2 linked regions of the Homo sapiens genome follow. The protein of the gene in region 1 interacts with the protein of each later gene in a pairwise test. Each region holds a gene or a part of one and is shown on either strand. Other genes may lie near its edges.

Region 1 (7,281 bases):
CCAGATAAACAGGTAACTCCTTCCTTGAGGTTGCCTTAGGACCTCACTGATTTTTCTACTGCACCTTTACCACCTGAACTGTACACTATTCCTCCACATGTCTGTCCCCTCTGCTCCAAGACTGCAGAGGACAGTCTTGCACATCATCTTTGTAAAAACAGTCTTTATTTTACTCAGAAATTTCTTATTGAGTCCTGCTACATACATGCTAGGTGTTAGGGTTTAAAAAGAATGAAAATAAAGCCTGTCAGGGATGGCTTTTCTAGAACACCTGCCCAAGCAGAGACTTAAATATTGAGGCTAGCTAGATTAAAAGTGGTAGAGGGCAAGAAAGGGTGACAGCATGCCACACAGCAGCAAGAGCAGGAGCGAGGCCTGAAAGAGTGAAAGTATTTGCCTGCAATAGAAGGAGGAGTGAGTAGGGCATTAAGAGCCACTCAGTAATGCCAGAGAAAGGGCACACAGGGAAAAGGGCTAAAGATGTAGAATAGGGCAGAAGTCAGATTATGAAAGCCTTATGTGTACCTTTAAGATGCTTAGACATTAACGTTCAAGAGTGGTCCCTGGTCCTATCTGTATTAAGATGTAGATCATTTTAATGCCAAAACCAATATTCCTAGTGAGCCATTATTCATTAAGACAAGGTGACAGCTAGCTCATGTGGACACAGCTGAGATGATACTATGTAGCAAATTCCCAATAATTCTCATGAACACTTGGAAAGTCAATTCTATAATAAGTCATAGAAATTATAATAAATCACTTAATATTTGTTTGGGAAGGTGCTTTATAAAGTTATAGTGTATATGAATATAACTAATAGTTGTGAATTCAGAGCTGTGAGAATAAAGCAAAAAAATCACACTGTGTTTGAGTCAGCAATCTTTAGATTTCTATCTAGTCTTCCTACCCAGTCCATAAATTCTAAGTATAATCCTAGTACTCGCTCTCAAGTTTAAGTTAAATGCTAGCCTATACAAAAAATACTCTTTCTCTTACTTCTTTTTTGTTATTTATATGTTGCTTTGTTTAAAGGAAGAACACAAAAATGCCCTGCTAAAGGGATTCTGTTTGGCTGCAGGCTGCAAGAGGGGAAAAACACAAAGCACATTTTGCAGAAAATGATTTTTTAGAAGTCAGAACTATGACATGAAGTCAAGCAGGGCACTCTAGGACTGACTTTGCTGTGCTTCCTTAATATGCTCCTTGCTCTCTTTCTTTTCTGGAAGCTGTGACTCACACAGGTCATGGAGAAAATTTCGTACTCCTTCCTCATGCCCAGCTTAAATACTAGTGTACAACGTGGAAACCTGTAAATTATCTGACATTTCTCTCTGTCCTCCAAACCTTTCTCATTCAATTATCACTAAATCATATTGACTATACCTCTCTTCTGCCTCTGCTTTATATTACCACTTCCACTGAGAACATAAACATTTACAAAATGGCTTTTATTACAAAAAAGCCTTCCAACTATTAATGTTATTTCTCACATGAAAAAAATTAAGCAAAACAAATGAAAAAAGCATAACACCAAAAAAAGGCCAACACATTAAAATGAGTAATGGGGATTCCAAACTTTATTTCACCATGGGCAGGTGAAAACCTTAGAATACATTGATACTAGTCCAAGGATGTGTGACATGGAAACTATAGATGACTACTGCAAAAGCTTCCTTTGTCTCCTGGTTTCTTTACATGGTTATCTTCCATCAATCCCAGCAAACTATAGGCCACAGGACAAATCCAATCTGCCTTTTGGCTTTGTAAATAAAGTTTTATAGGAGCTCAGTCATGCCTGTTTGCTTACATATAATCATGGTGGCTTTCACACTACAACAACAGACAACAGCCTGGTTAAGTAGATATGACAGAGACCACATAGTCTAAAATATTTCCCACCTGGTCCTTTACAGAAAAAGCTTGCTAACCCATTTTACACCATAAGCAGAATATGCCTTAATATTCAAATTTAATCTTGTAACTCCCCTGCTCAAATTTCTCCAATGAGCCCCTGCAGCACACATTGTTGGCTCCTATCAATAGCCATTCCTTATTCTTTCTTGCAGAAGAAACACAAGTCTATTGGGATATTTATTATCCCAATCCCCCTCCTCAGCCTCAGAAAGAGAAATGTTTATTCTAAGCTAATCATGTATTTGCCATCCCATTGCCTGGTTTGGGAATGAGCATGTGGTGTGACCCAGCCAATGAAATGTTACAGGAAGCCCCTTGCATGCTTCTAAGTTTTCTCCCTGTTTAAAAGACACATGTGAAGAAAAGCAGCCCTTGAAATGTTGTGTTGTGAGAACAAGATGTTTGGAGCTGCTGCGGATTAGCCAACCATGAAAGGAAACATGAAGAAAACACTGCCAACAGCACAGCTGAAAGAGGGACAAATGGGATCCTAGGATATCACTGAACAACCAAAACAACTCTGGTTCCTACTGTTTTAGCCACTGCTCATCTAGTATTTACAGTCCAAAGCATTCTACCTGGTAAATTTCCCATGGCCCACAGGGTAAGACCTACTCATTTCTATAGTATTAAAAAAGTCTATCATAAACTTGCCTTAGCTAAGTATTCACCTCATTCCCAAACTCTGGTGTCTCACACTTTTGGTACTAGCAAAAGTGAACTGCTCAGAAACCCTGCAAAGTTCACTCGGCATCCTGTCTTTTGCAGTTGTTGCTCTTCCTGCCAAACAGGCAATCTCATCAGATGTTCTTCTGGCAAACACACAAACTTGTTGCATGTTCCTTCTGCCAAAAATTATTCTTCTGCTTCTTTACCTAGAAAAATTCTTCTCACTCTGCATGCTTACTTTGAATCATACCTACTTTTTTTCAAAACTTTCATTCCTCATCACGTATGTCTGGCACATAATTAATACATAATAAATCATAATTATAAGCTTCCAGTTGGCATCTAGCACACAGTAAGCACTGAATAAAGTAGTAAAATAATAAAAGTGACAATGATAATAACAAGCTCCTGTCTGTATTTTTAATTGTGTGTGTTCTGTAGCATTAGAAAAATGATTAGTATCTAAAAGACATTTGATAGTTATTTGTTAAGTGGACAAGTGAAAACATAGAAATGTTTTCTTTGTAAATTCTGTTGAAAAAGCACAGAAATGAAATAGAGACACCTCTATTATGAGCACCTTAAAGATCAAAACTACATCTATTCCATCTTTGTCTTCTGCAACTTATAAAACCTAACTTACAGAAGCTTTTTGATAAATAGATGGCTAAATTAAAGGTGTCCTCATCCAGTTTGGATTATACAATGTATTAGGTGTCCACAACCAGGTGGCATACTAGTATTTTTGTTAATGTGAAGCATTTTTCTACTTTTATTATAATCTGCTGAGCCTAGAGTTGGGCAATTTGTATATTTATTATGACAATCTTTTGGTAAATGGTAGCAGAGCATCTTGTTCTAACAAAATTACTGTTATCAAGACAATTGACCAGCAGGTAGAGAACACATCTTGTTCCAACAAAGTAAATGTATCTCTTTCCAACTTCAAATGAGGAGGAATGAAGTCAGTAAGAGTGAGACCTTGTTGGGACAAGGATATGTAACATGACTTGTGCTTTGGCGTTCTTTTGTGATCAAAAATTCCTTACTTTTATTTTTTTATCTACGGTAGGACCACCCAGAGCAGGGGTCCACAACTCCCAGGTCACAGACTGGTACCAGTCCATGGACTATTATGAACCACACCACACAGGAGGAGGTGAGCAGCAGGCAAACCAGGGAAGCTTCACCTGTACTTACAGCCACACCCCATGGCTCATATTACCGCCTGAACTCTGCCTCCAGTCAGATCAGTGATAGCACTAGATACTCATTGGAGCATGAACCCTATTGTGAACTGCTCATCTGAGGGATCTAGGTTGTGTGCTTCATATGAGAAACTAATGCCTGATGATCTGTCACTGTCTCACTTTGCCCCCAGATGAGACCATCTAGTTGCAGAAAAATAAGCTCAGAGTTTCCACGGATTCTACATTATGGTAAGTTGTATAATTATTTCATTATATATTACAATGTAATAATAATATAAAGTAGCACAATAAATGAAACATGGCTGAATAATCCTGAAACCATCCCCACCTTCCCCCAGCCCATGGAAAGACTGTCTTCCACAAAACCGGTCCCTGATGCCAAAAACATTGTGGACAACTGACCTAAAGTAATTCATTATCACAAGTCTTACCTGGATTGCTGTTTTCAGAAGAGATTTTTAGCATCTGTTTTTCTTTATAGTCAGAAAGTAATTCACAAATTCTATGTATAAAAATGTAATAAACCAAATTACTATTTTAATACTGATATAAAAAATACTTACCAAATGTAAGATTCTTAGAGTATTTCAAACAATATCATAATATCAGAATTTAACAGTATTATCCCATACACTTATGAGTACATTCTACAAACTTTTCTTTAAGCTTCTAATTAAAGAAGAAAAAAAATTAGGTGAAATGCTCATAAATCAAGGGCACTGTGACCCAGTAAATCAGCAGGCATTAGCATGACATAATAGAAAGTGTCCCAACTCTGCATAAGTCCTAGCTCCATAATGAACAGCTATTTGTTCTTGGACAACTTTCTTCTCTTAGGCTCAATGTCTTCTTCTACAAAGTGAGGACTTTGCTGCCTTATTTCACTAGGTTGTTATAAAGATTTAACAAGGTAACATTTTTTAAATGCTCAGAGAAATAGTAAAGCAATGGAATAATCTGTTCCTAAACTTTATGACTAAAATTATCTTGGAATCCCAAATAAAACCCCATGTGTATTTTGTTCATAGGTTCTAATATGCAAATGCTGTAGTTTTCAGGAAATGTTATTAAGTCCTAATTTTGCTTCTTAGTTGTCCTACTCCTTATGGCTTATCATTCAGGGCATCTCAACTGTGTCATAGTTTGTAACTAAATTTTTTCATAAATCTCTCATTAAAGTAGATAATGTGATTGTCCACTATTACGGAGTTGACCAATTTGTTGTGCTAAGGGCAGAAAAACCAATGGATGTTAAGACCTGGCTTGGAGCAATGATCCTTCTCTACAGACTCAAACTCTGAGCCAGCAGATGTTTGTTAGGATAATGCTTTATATTGATGTTCAATTCCAGCTGACATGGGAGACCAAAACTCTACTTTTATTTTTTTTCAGTTTTCATGAAGAAGCTGCAAATTGACATTCTCTAATTTTTGACGTACATACTTATAATATATTTTGCACTGAACACATTATTCAGCTCTAAATCATCTCACAGACCATCTTCCATGACTATTTTTGCAGCACAAATCACATTTCGATATTTTGGTGGCACCCATTTTGCTTTGATTCACACTGTTTCCTTAGAGCTAGCCAGCAAATAGTGAAATGATCTTCCAGTGACTGCACAAAATATGGAATGCTTCAAAGAGTTGTGCTGCCTCCTTATGCAGAAGCCGTGCTAACTTTCTCTGTATTGTTCCAATTTTAGGATATGTGCCGCCAAAGCAGGCACAAAGCCCTACTTTTACACATGATTTGTGATGAGTCATGGGCAAGGCTTGGCTCTTGTCCATGACTCATCACTACTTACTTAACCCACGTGAGATTCTGAGAATTCTCTTCAATGGCTTCCTGTGAGGTACAATTTGAAAATATTTTAAAATCTTGAGCTAGAGATGGAAGTAGCTTGGACGATTTTCATTATCATGTAAATCAGATCACTCAAGGGGCCAACCACAGCTGGGAGCCACTGCTTGGGGAAGGCTCATATGGGACTTTCTACTGCCTAAGGTTCTACACAGGATATAAAGGTGCCTCACTGTGTAGATCTGGTAGCAAAGAAGAAGAAACAAACACTGATCTCTTTCTGCCACATTATTTGAACCCCTCTGACCCTTTATAACAAGCCCACCTCATATCTGCTAGAGAAAAGACCAACAACGGCCTGAAAGGATCTCTTACCATGAAGGTCTCAGCTAATTCTTAGCTAAGATGTGGGTTCCACATTAGGTTCTGAATACAGGAGGAAGGGTCAATTTGCTCACTTTGTGTGCGGATAAAGTCAGGATGCCCAGCGGCCAGAGCAGGGTGCTGGTGCTTTGGGAACAATGGCTGAGCATATAAGCATAGGTAAGGGAACTAAAAAATGTTGTAACTTCAAAGTCACTGTGTGAATCCCCATGAAGACTTGAGGGATCTGAATCAGTAAGGGCACCTTGGTGTCAAAGGTCAACAATTACCAGGCAGCAGAAGCAGTTTGAGTGGCAACAATGCAGCAACAGAAACAATGGAAACAACAGAATGATTGGAATGTCCTTTTTTCTCTCCTCCTTCTGACTTGATAAAAGGGACTGTCTTCCTTGGATTTAGTGAACCCCTTTGGTTCTTGAAAAATTCAAGGAGTATGTAGGAGACAGTCCCCAGAAGACAGTACAAGGCTTTCTGCTAAACTGGACATTTCAAGACCCAAATAACTAATCAGAAAAATCAAAGATGTGATACTCTTTTTTATGCCATGCATAGGTGTTATACTTGGATGAAATGAACAATATTGGGATCTCTAAGGATAAAGGTCTTAAAAGTCCTGAGGTAAAGAATCCTGCACCCATTGGTACTTCTAACTTGTCTTGCTTTTTGTCTGATTTCTGGCTGATGCAGGGGACTAACTCACTGCCACTCTAAAACTACCTGAACCAAACTATGACATCTCACCTGATATGTAAGATGCAATTGTTATAATTATTTTAAACCTCAATTTAGCATTAACTAGCCTTTTCATGTAAACACTTACACATGATGATGACTAGAAACAGCATACTCTCTGGCCGTCTGTCCAGATAGATCTTGAGAAGATACATCAACATTTTGCTCAAGTAGAAGATTGACTATACTTGCTGATCCACAACATACAGCAAGTATGAGGGCAGTTCTAAAATTACAGAGATAATTTCTCCTTTAGAAACTGTAATAAAGTTATTTTAAAAGCTAATTTGATATACTTTACCAATTTGACATCTTGCCTGTCCATGCAGAATCAAACATTTACATGCGCTAAAAGACATAAGCATCTTGGGTGCTCAAGAGTTCATCTTTGTAAAATACCACCAAGGTTAAAAGGAAGGGACAAAAAGGAAACCTCTTATCTCAGTGGGGTATTGCATAGCAGAAGCTACTAATTTAAAGTCCTTTGATGGGCAAGAAACAATGCTAGGGCCACTTATCTGAAGTGGACAAAGATTTAAGTGAAGATTTTGTCACAGCTTCC
Region 2 (7,281 bases), on another chromosome or scaffold:
AAGTATATTTCCACCTAGTTTTTAAAAACTCATTTATTCTTTGTTTTTTCTGCCTTCAACTCTTCATCTGGAATTTCTTTATATGTGGCATGAGATGAGTTTCTAATTTTTTTTCTCCAGTTATTTAGCTATTCCAAAGCCTTTTACTGACTAATCGTTACCTTTCCCATCTATCTCTGATGCCACCTTTACTTTTTTTCGTATTTTTTTCGGTACTGTACTCCAGGCCATCATTCTAGTCCACTGACTTGACAGTAATTTTTCACTTGTCCCACCTGGCTCAAATTACTGTAACTTTACAATATATGACATTAGTTTAAATGACAAATATTTGGCTAAAGTATACACAGCCCATAAAACAGGCTACGTCCATAGCACTAGCACCTTTCCTATCATTCACTGCTATGAACAACAATCTGCAAGGCTCAGAGCCATGCAGGAGGGTCAGTCCCCTGGCAATAGAAAGAGGGTTGGGGCTAAAAGGAGGTGTGTAAGTTTCAAAGGACACTAATCTGGCCTATAACCTGAAAAAGTTAAATGAATCTACAGCAAGTTAAATCCTGGTATAAAACATACCAAGGGATTGTCAACATTTCTGGTTTGTATTAGAATCTGGCTACATTAATATGACTTGAAATGAGCTGGACAAGATTAGAACTTCAAATCTTTTTGTCACATAGAGATTTTTCAGATGCAATGAGATTTGATCTATATTAAAAGGCATCATCTCTACACTGCAACACAGAGCACAAGTTTAGCATAAAAGTGGAATTCAAATACAAGGGAAGTCTTTTGTTCCCCCCTTACCTGGACTTTTAGTTCTAGTTCTCTGATTTGGTCTTCTTTCACCTTCATGTCCATCGTGAGCTTCTTGCCCTCTGCTTCTAGTTCTCTGATCCGATTCCGTAAGGTTTCGGTGCATTCTCCCCTTTTGAAAAAGAAGAGAAGGAAATAAAGTGATTTAAAAGACTATAGGTTGGGGCTGGGCCCTGTGACTCAGGCCTGTAATCCCAGCACTTTGGGAGGCCGAGGCAGGCAGATTATTTGAGGTCAGGGGTTCGAGACCAACCTGACCAGCATGGTGAAACCCCGTCTCTACTAAAAATACAAAAAAAATTGGCTGGGCATGGTGGTACATGCCTGTAGTCCCAGCTACTGGGGAGGCTGAGGCAGAAGAATTGCTTGAACCCAGGAGGTGGAGGTTGCAGCGAGTCCAGATCGTGCCACTGCACTCCAGCTTGGGCGTCCGAGTGAGACTCCATCTCAAAAACAAATAAATAAATAAATAAATAAAATTTTAAAAAAGACTATAGGTTGGCCGAGTGCAGTGGCTCACGCCTGTAATCACAGCAATTTGGGAGGCCAAGGCAGGTGGATCACTTGAGGTCAGGAGTTCAAGACCAGCCTGGCCAACACAGTGAAACCCTCTCTCTACAAAAATTAGCTGGGTGTAGTGGCACACATCTGTAATCCCAGCTACTCGGGAGGCCGAGGCAGGAGAATTGCTTGTACCTGGGAGGCAGAGGCTGCACTGAGCTGAGATGGTGTCACAGCACGTTAGCCTGGGTGACAAAGTGAGACTCTGTCTCAAAAAAAAGAAAAAAAAAAGACTATAGGTTTACTTGTATTGTGGGATTTATATTTCTTTTAATTTCTTTTATACTCCAGGGTCTGTCAGGTTTTAGCTTTTGGCTCAGTCTGCTCAGTTCTCTGTGTCCTTTGATAATTTCAATAATACTCTAAAATAACTGGGCTGGGCATGGTGGCTCATGCCCGTAATCCCAGCACTCCCAAGGCCAAGGTGGGAGGACTGCTTGAGCCCAGAGTCTGAGATCAGCCTGGGCAACACAGAGAGACCCTGTCTCTACAAAAAATTTAAAAAATAGCTGGGCATAGTAGCACATGCCTGTAGTCCCAGCTACTCAGGAGGCTGAGGCAAGAGGACAACTTGAGCCCAGGAGTTTCAGGTTATAGTAAGCTATGACTGCACCATTGCACTCCAGTCTGGGTGACAGAATGATATCCTGTCTCAAAATACATACATATATACAATAATTATTACTGAGTGTCTAGATGAGCCAGACACTAAGGTACTTTACCCATACTACCTTCTTCAATCCTTATAACAACCTAGGGTATATTTATCCCATTTTCCAGATAAGAAAACTGAGGCTACATAGATAAAATACTAGTTCAAGGTTACCTAGCTTTTAGGTCTTAGAATAGGGATAAGAACTGAGATTTTCTGGCTTCCCAATCCAGCAAACTTCCCACCAGGCCATGAGACTTGAGACAATACACACAAAGCCAGATAGAACTGAACATGTACTATGTCCAGCAGGGGGCGGTGAACTAGAAAAAAATTTTCCCCCCACTTTTGAGGGGCTACGCATTGGGACTTTTGTCTTTCTTGTCATAAAGTTGCCACAAGACTGGAGTAAACAGAAAAATAAGGGCACACTGTTGAGCTGCTTCTCAGGGCTATCATAAGGTTGAGCTAAAAGAGATGATGGCAATGGCCAGTCCAAAGCTGGTACTGTCTAGGTTCCAGAAACAGCCCAATGAAGAAAGTAGGTGTTCTCTGCCTACCAAAACGGAAGGTCCAGTCAGAGATTTATGCCCTGAGATTTACTGAATAAATTATGGCAGGCCTGGTGTGGTGGCTCACGCCTGTAATCCCAGCACTTTGGGAGGTCAAGGTGGGCAGATCACCTGAGGTCAGGAGTTCGAGACCAGCCTGCCAAGATGGTGAAACCTCGTCTCTACTAAAAATACAAAAAGTTGCTGGGCACGGTGGCAGGAGCCTGTAATCCCAGCTACTTGGGAGGCTGAGGCAGGAGAATCGCTTGAACCTGGGTGGCAAAGGCTGCAGTGAGCTGAGATCGCGCCACTGCACTCCAGCCTGGGTGACAGAGTTAGACTCCGTCTCAAAAAGAAGGAAAAAAAGAATAAGTTATGAAAAACAAGGACTATCCAGGGATAAGATAAATAAGCTTAACTGGAAGCAAAAGGGATTTGGGGTAGACACTGAAATCAACTTACTGATTCTCAGGCATGGGAGACACTAAGCAATATCGTTAAGGAACTGCTATGTCCTCCTGAGTGGAATTTTTCAGAAAGGGCAGGTGCTGTATGAATTGAGGAGAGAGGAGAGCAGTCATCACTAGATGACTGTTCAAGAACATCTCCTGCAAGTTTAAGTGCTTCAGAATGCAAATACATCTTCAAACAAACAAACAATCCCACATTGTAGGCAGGCTAGTCAAGGGCCTTGTAAGTCTGTATAGATGCTGATGGGCCAAGCCAGCTCAGCCATCTGCTGGGGGGAGGCAGGATCACACAGGAGAGAGTTCTCACTTGCTGTTATTTCCTAAAAGGTGAAATGATTCACCAATTATTCTGCAAATGCCAGAACCCACAAAGAAGGCTATCAACATGCCAAAAGTTAAATTACTTAACTTTAATTACGACAAAGCAAAATTCAAGGAAAAATTACAGTTGAATTATACCACGTAGATACAAATTAGGATGGAATTTAAAAGTGAAATAAATAATAATTTACCCTCGCTCTATATCTGCAAACACCTAACTGATTCCCACATGCAGAGGGACTTCACTAGTCAAGAAAACAAAGGAAAAAGTGATAAGTGAAGTAGAAGCAAAAAGAAAAAAAAAGCTCTTAACTATCTAATAGTTTTTGGAATACTTGCACACAGGGGTACTTTCCAGTGGTATAGGAGGTAGTCCCCAATTTTCATTATGCCATAAATGTAATTCCATCTAGTAGAGACTTATGTTTCACTTTTTTTTTCCATTTCATTTGACAGTTTGCTGATATCCATTTGAGCAGCCAGTACACAGTGCTTGGGCAACCAAGATTTTATCTTTCTTCCATTTTAAGATAAAAACTTCAGAAACACATATACCTAAGAGTGGAGAGTAATGATAGCTCTCTAAAGGGAACGAACTTCCAGATAGAATCTCTCAATGCATTTAGTAATCATCAGTCTGACAAAAAGTGACTGGAAACCTTTTTATGAGCAGTACTTTGCCTCCCAGGTATGGGAAACATGGTGATTCCCTCATCCCACTTTATAGATGAGGTCACTGAGGGATAAAGCTGTTATAAGATAGTGCAAGCTTGCACACATGGAGTTTAAACCAGTTAATAAAACAGTACTTAAAAGCAATCCATCCGTGCATGATTGCTGTACGTCCAATCCTGCCCAAGGCACCAAATTCCCATGTCTTTGTTGGTAAAGGAAAGCCAACCTTGGATTAAACACTCAGGTGACATGGACATACCTAGATGCAGCAGCAAACGCAACAGCCCGGGCAGCAGTGGCTTCTTCTAACTTCTTCCTCTTTTTCTCTTCCATTAACTGTTTCTCTACAAAACTTCGGGCTTCCTGCTCAGCTTTTAGCTTTTTCTCCAACTGGCTGATATTCTGCTTGTCTTTTTGCTTCATTTGCACAGCATTATGTAACCTATATGGAAATGATTGTCATATAAAGTCTTAAAATTACAAATGCCCACTATAAACCCTTGAGAAACATCTCTTTATCACCTTAAGGCCAATTAAACAGGAGGTTTGAACAGCAAATCAAAAATGTCAATGCCCAGAATGCCTGAGGAAAACACACTGTTATTCTTTAATAATTCCTAAACACCAATAAACAAGCTGCCTTACAAAACAGAGATTAAGACCTAGCCTCTGCTCTGTTCAAGTAAGTGATCTACAAAAGGTCATCCAGAAAACAGGGTAAAACAAATTTTGAACAGAGGGGAAGATAATTGTAGAACTAATTCTAATGTTCCAGAGCACCCTGAAAGAACTTCAGTCCCACCAAAGAACCACTGATGGGACCAGCCCCAGTGAAACTAAGGTAAGGGGTGGAAAGGGGAAGGTTTTTATTTTTCCTGAATACAATTTTGCTGTAGCCTACTACAGCTTTTCCTTTCCAGCTCAGGATGTTTGCTCACAGTGTCCCCAAATCCTCTTTTAGAGTCACAGGATGCTTAATTTCAGATAGAAATTTCAGCCATATTTCCTGCTTACTACCACCCCCAGCTTTACCTATCAGCATGAGGTGAGTTTATCACTGGGATGTTCTCTACATATCAATGCTAGAACCACCACAAATGCTGGTCAGAGGCAATGGAGAGGTTATTTGCCTGTAATGCCCTAGCTTTTGAGTTACATTCCTTAAAAATGTTGAACTCCTCTTTCAACAGGGAAAGCCCAGAAAGCCAACAGCCTGTAATGATCATCACTACCACGGGCACACATTGCTGGGAGATTTAAAAAAAGAAAAAAGGACAGACCTACACTGAGTTAAGAAGTAATTCCAGAATGAACTAATCAAAAGCCTAAATGAATTCACACAGAAGACCTGGCTTTCTGCCTGCCTTTTCAAATAAAATCAAAGTTCAATGTCATCTTTTAGTTCTGGAAATAAAAGTAAATATAGTCAAATCCTCTAGAAATTTTCACTCAAAGGAGCAAAATTTTCAAAATGTGACAGAACTACTTCTTGTCAATTTTACTATCCAAAAACTCAATAACTATTTTAAACTAAGAAGTTATTAAATGAGAGAAGACAAAAACAGTAATATTAATAAACTGTTTTGTGGCAATGAAATAAGTTTTTATAGATTTTATAAACATGTTGAATATCTGGTACTAAATAAAGTATTTTAAACATTTTATTTAAAAACCTCTCAGCAGGTCTCTGTCACCATAAATCTTGTGCTCCAACCCCTGGCAACAGGAGAAGCAGTGAAGCTGCCGGGCTTACGGCCAAAGGCCTGAAAGGTGCACGTACTTGTTCTGCAGCAGCTCGTTCTCCTGCCGAAGCTGGCCCATTTCTGAGCGGATCCCTCGCTCGGTGCTCGAAAGGGAGCTGATCTGACTGCGGAGCTCTTGTTCCACTTGTCTGCTGGCTTGCAGGTCAGCCTTTAACTTTTTAATGTCTTGTTCCAGCCTAGGAGAATGAGAAATGCAGCATTTTCATCTAGGTGAGGGCACCCACAGAGCTGGGAGGGACCTGGTGGGGGTCCTGGACTGCTGGGTGAATGGCAGAAAAAGGACCCCGCTGGCAGTTCCTGCCATGATGAGGACTCCTGTCTGCAACTGGGTTAATTTTGTTGAATGATTCCACCTGGGTCCCTACCTCTTCCTACTGGGGTGTAACTTTCAACTTCCCCCTGTTTATGAATAGTGACAGGTGAGTATGGTGCTTGTGAATATCCATCCGAGCTGCTGATAAAGGAGAAAGGGACAGCAGAGAGGGTGGCTGAAGACTAAAGGCTCCCTTCTGGTGGCTTTTCATGCCCTCAGCAAGGGAAATATGTTCAAACAACTAGCACATGACCTACCACTTAATGCTTTGTGATATTTTGATAAATCAGAATCTACTGTCTGAGACTGCGTCCCACCATGGGCCTAGAAGAAAACGGTCTGCGACGACCTCCAGAAATTGCAGCATCCTTGCTGAATGACGTTCACAACTCTGGTGATTGCGGCAGAAGAGCTCACGAGACTCAATAACAATGAAAAAAGGAACAAATTACATGCTCTAAGAATCATAAGAGAACTCCATCTGTAAAATGAAGCCTATCTTTTCTCGTCAATTCCTTACTCTTGTTCCATCTATTTTCTTTACTGCAGTAATAGTTTCACTTTAAGTGACAGGTATTGGAGACCTACTATGCATATGTAGTGCTGAAAATGGTCAACAAAAACTATCGGCCAGGCGCAGTGGCTCATGCCTGTAATCCCAGCACTTTGGGAGCCCGAGGCAGGCGGATCACCTGAGGTCAGGAGTTCAAGACCGGCCTGGCCAACGTGGTGAAACCCCATCTCTACTAAAAGTACAAAAATTAGCTGGGCATGGTGGCGCGTGCCTGTAATCCCAGCTACTCAGGAGGCTGAGGCAGGAGAATCACTTGAACCCAGGAGGTGGAGGTTGCAGTGAGCTGAGATCATGCCACTGCACTCCAGCCTGGGTGACAAGAGTGAGACTCTGTCTCAAAAAACAAAAAACAAACAAACGAAAACTATAAAATCAAGTCTCTTTCTTCATGGGAAAACTTCACAATTAGGAACAAAGAAATAGGAACCAAGAAATACATAATTTAAATGATTAAACAATAAGACAAGGAAGGCCATGATTAAATATATGCCAGAAGGAATAATAACAACAGCTACTATTTAATGAGAACTTATGGGCCAGGCACTGTTCTATAGGGTTTAATCCTATAATCTGTACAACTATGGG

The links.
Region 2: the proteins of POTEB3 (region 1) and MACO1 interact in binary tests that used the Homo sapiens proteins (3 or more experiments, as listed by UniProt).

The regions. Positions count from the first base shown.
Region 1 is NC_000015.10:21,423,457-21,430,737, forward strand, and holds part of POTEB3 (POTE ankyrin domain family member B3), read right to left. Parts: intron 6,946-7,281; coding exon 6,808-6,945; intron 5,530-6,807; exon of another isoform or gene 5,423-5,529; intron 4,300-5,422; coding exon 4,229-4,299; intron 2,793-4,228; exon of another isoform or gene 2,572-2,792; intron 1,834-2,571; coding exon of another isoform or gene 1,829-1,833; exon of another isoform or gene 1,563-1,828; intron 1-1,562.
Region 2 is NC_000001.11:25,482,820-25,490,100, reverse strand, and holds part of MACO1 (macoilin), read right to left. Parts: intron 5,986-7,281; coding exon 5,827-5,985; intron 4,489-5,826; coding exon 4,306-4,488; intron 929-4,305; coding exon 808-928; intron 1-807. UniProt on the Homo sapiens protein: Plays a role in the regulation of neuronal activity.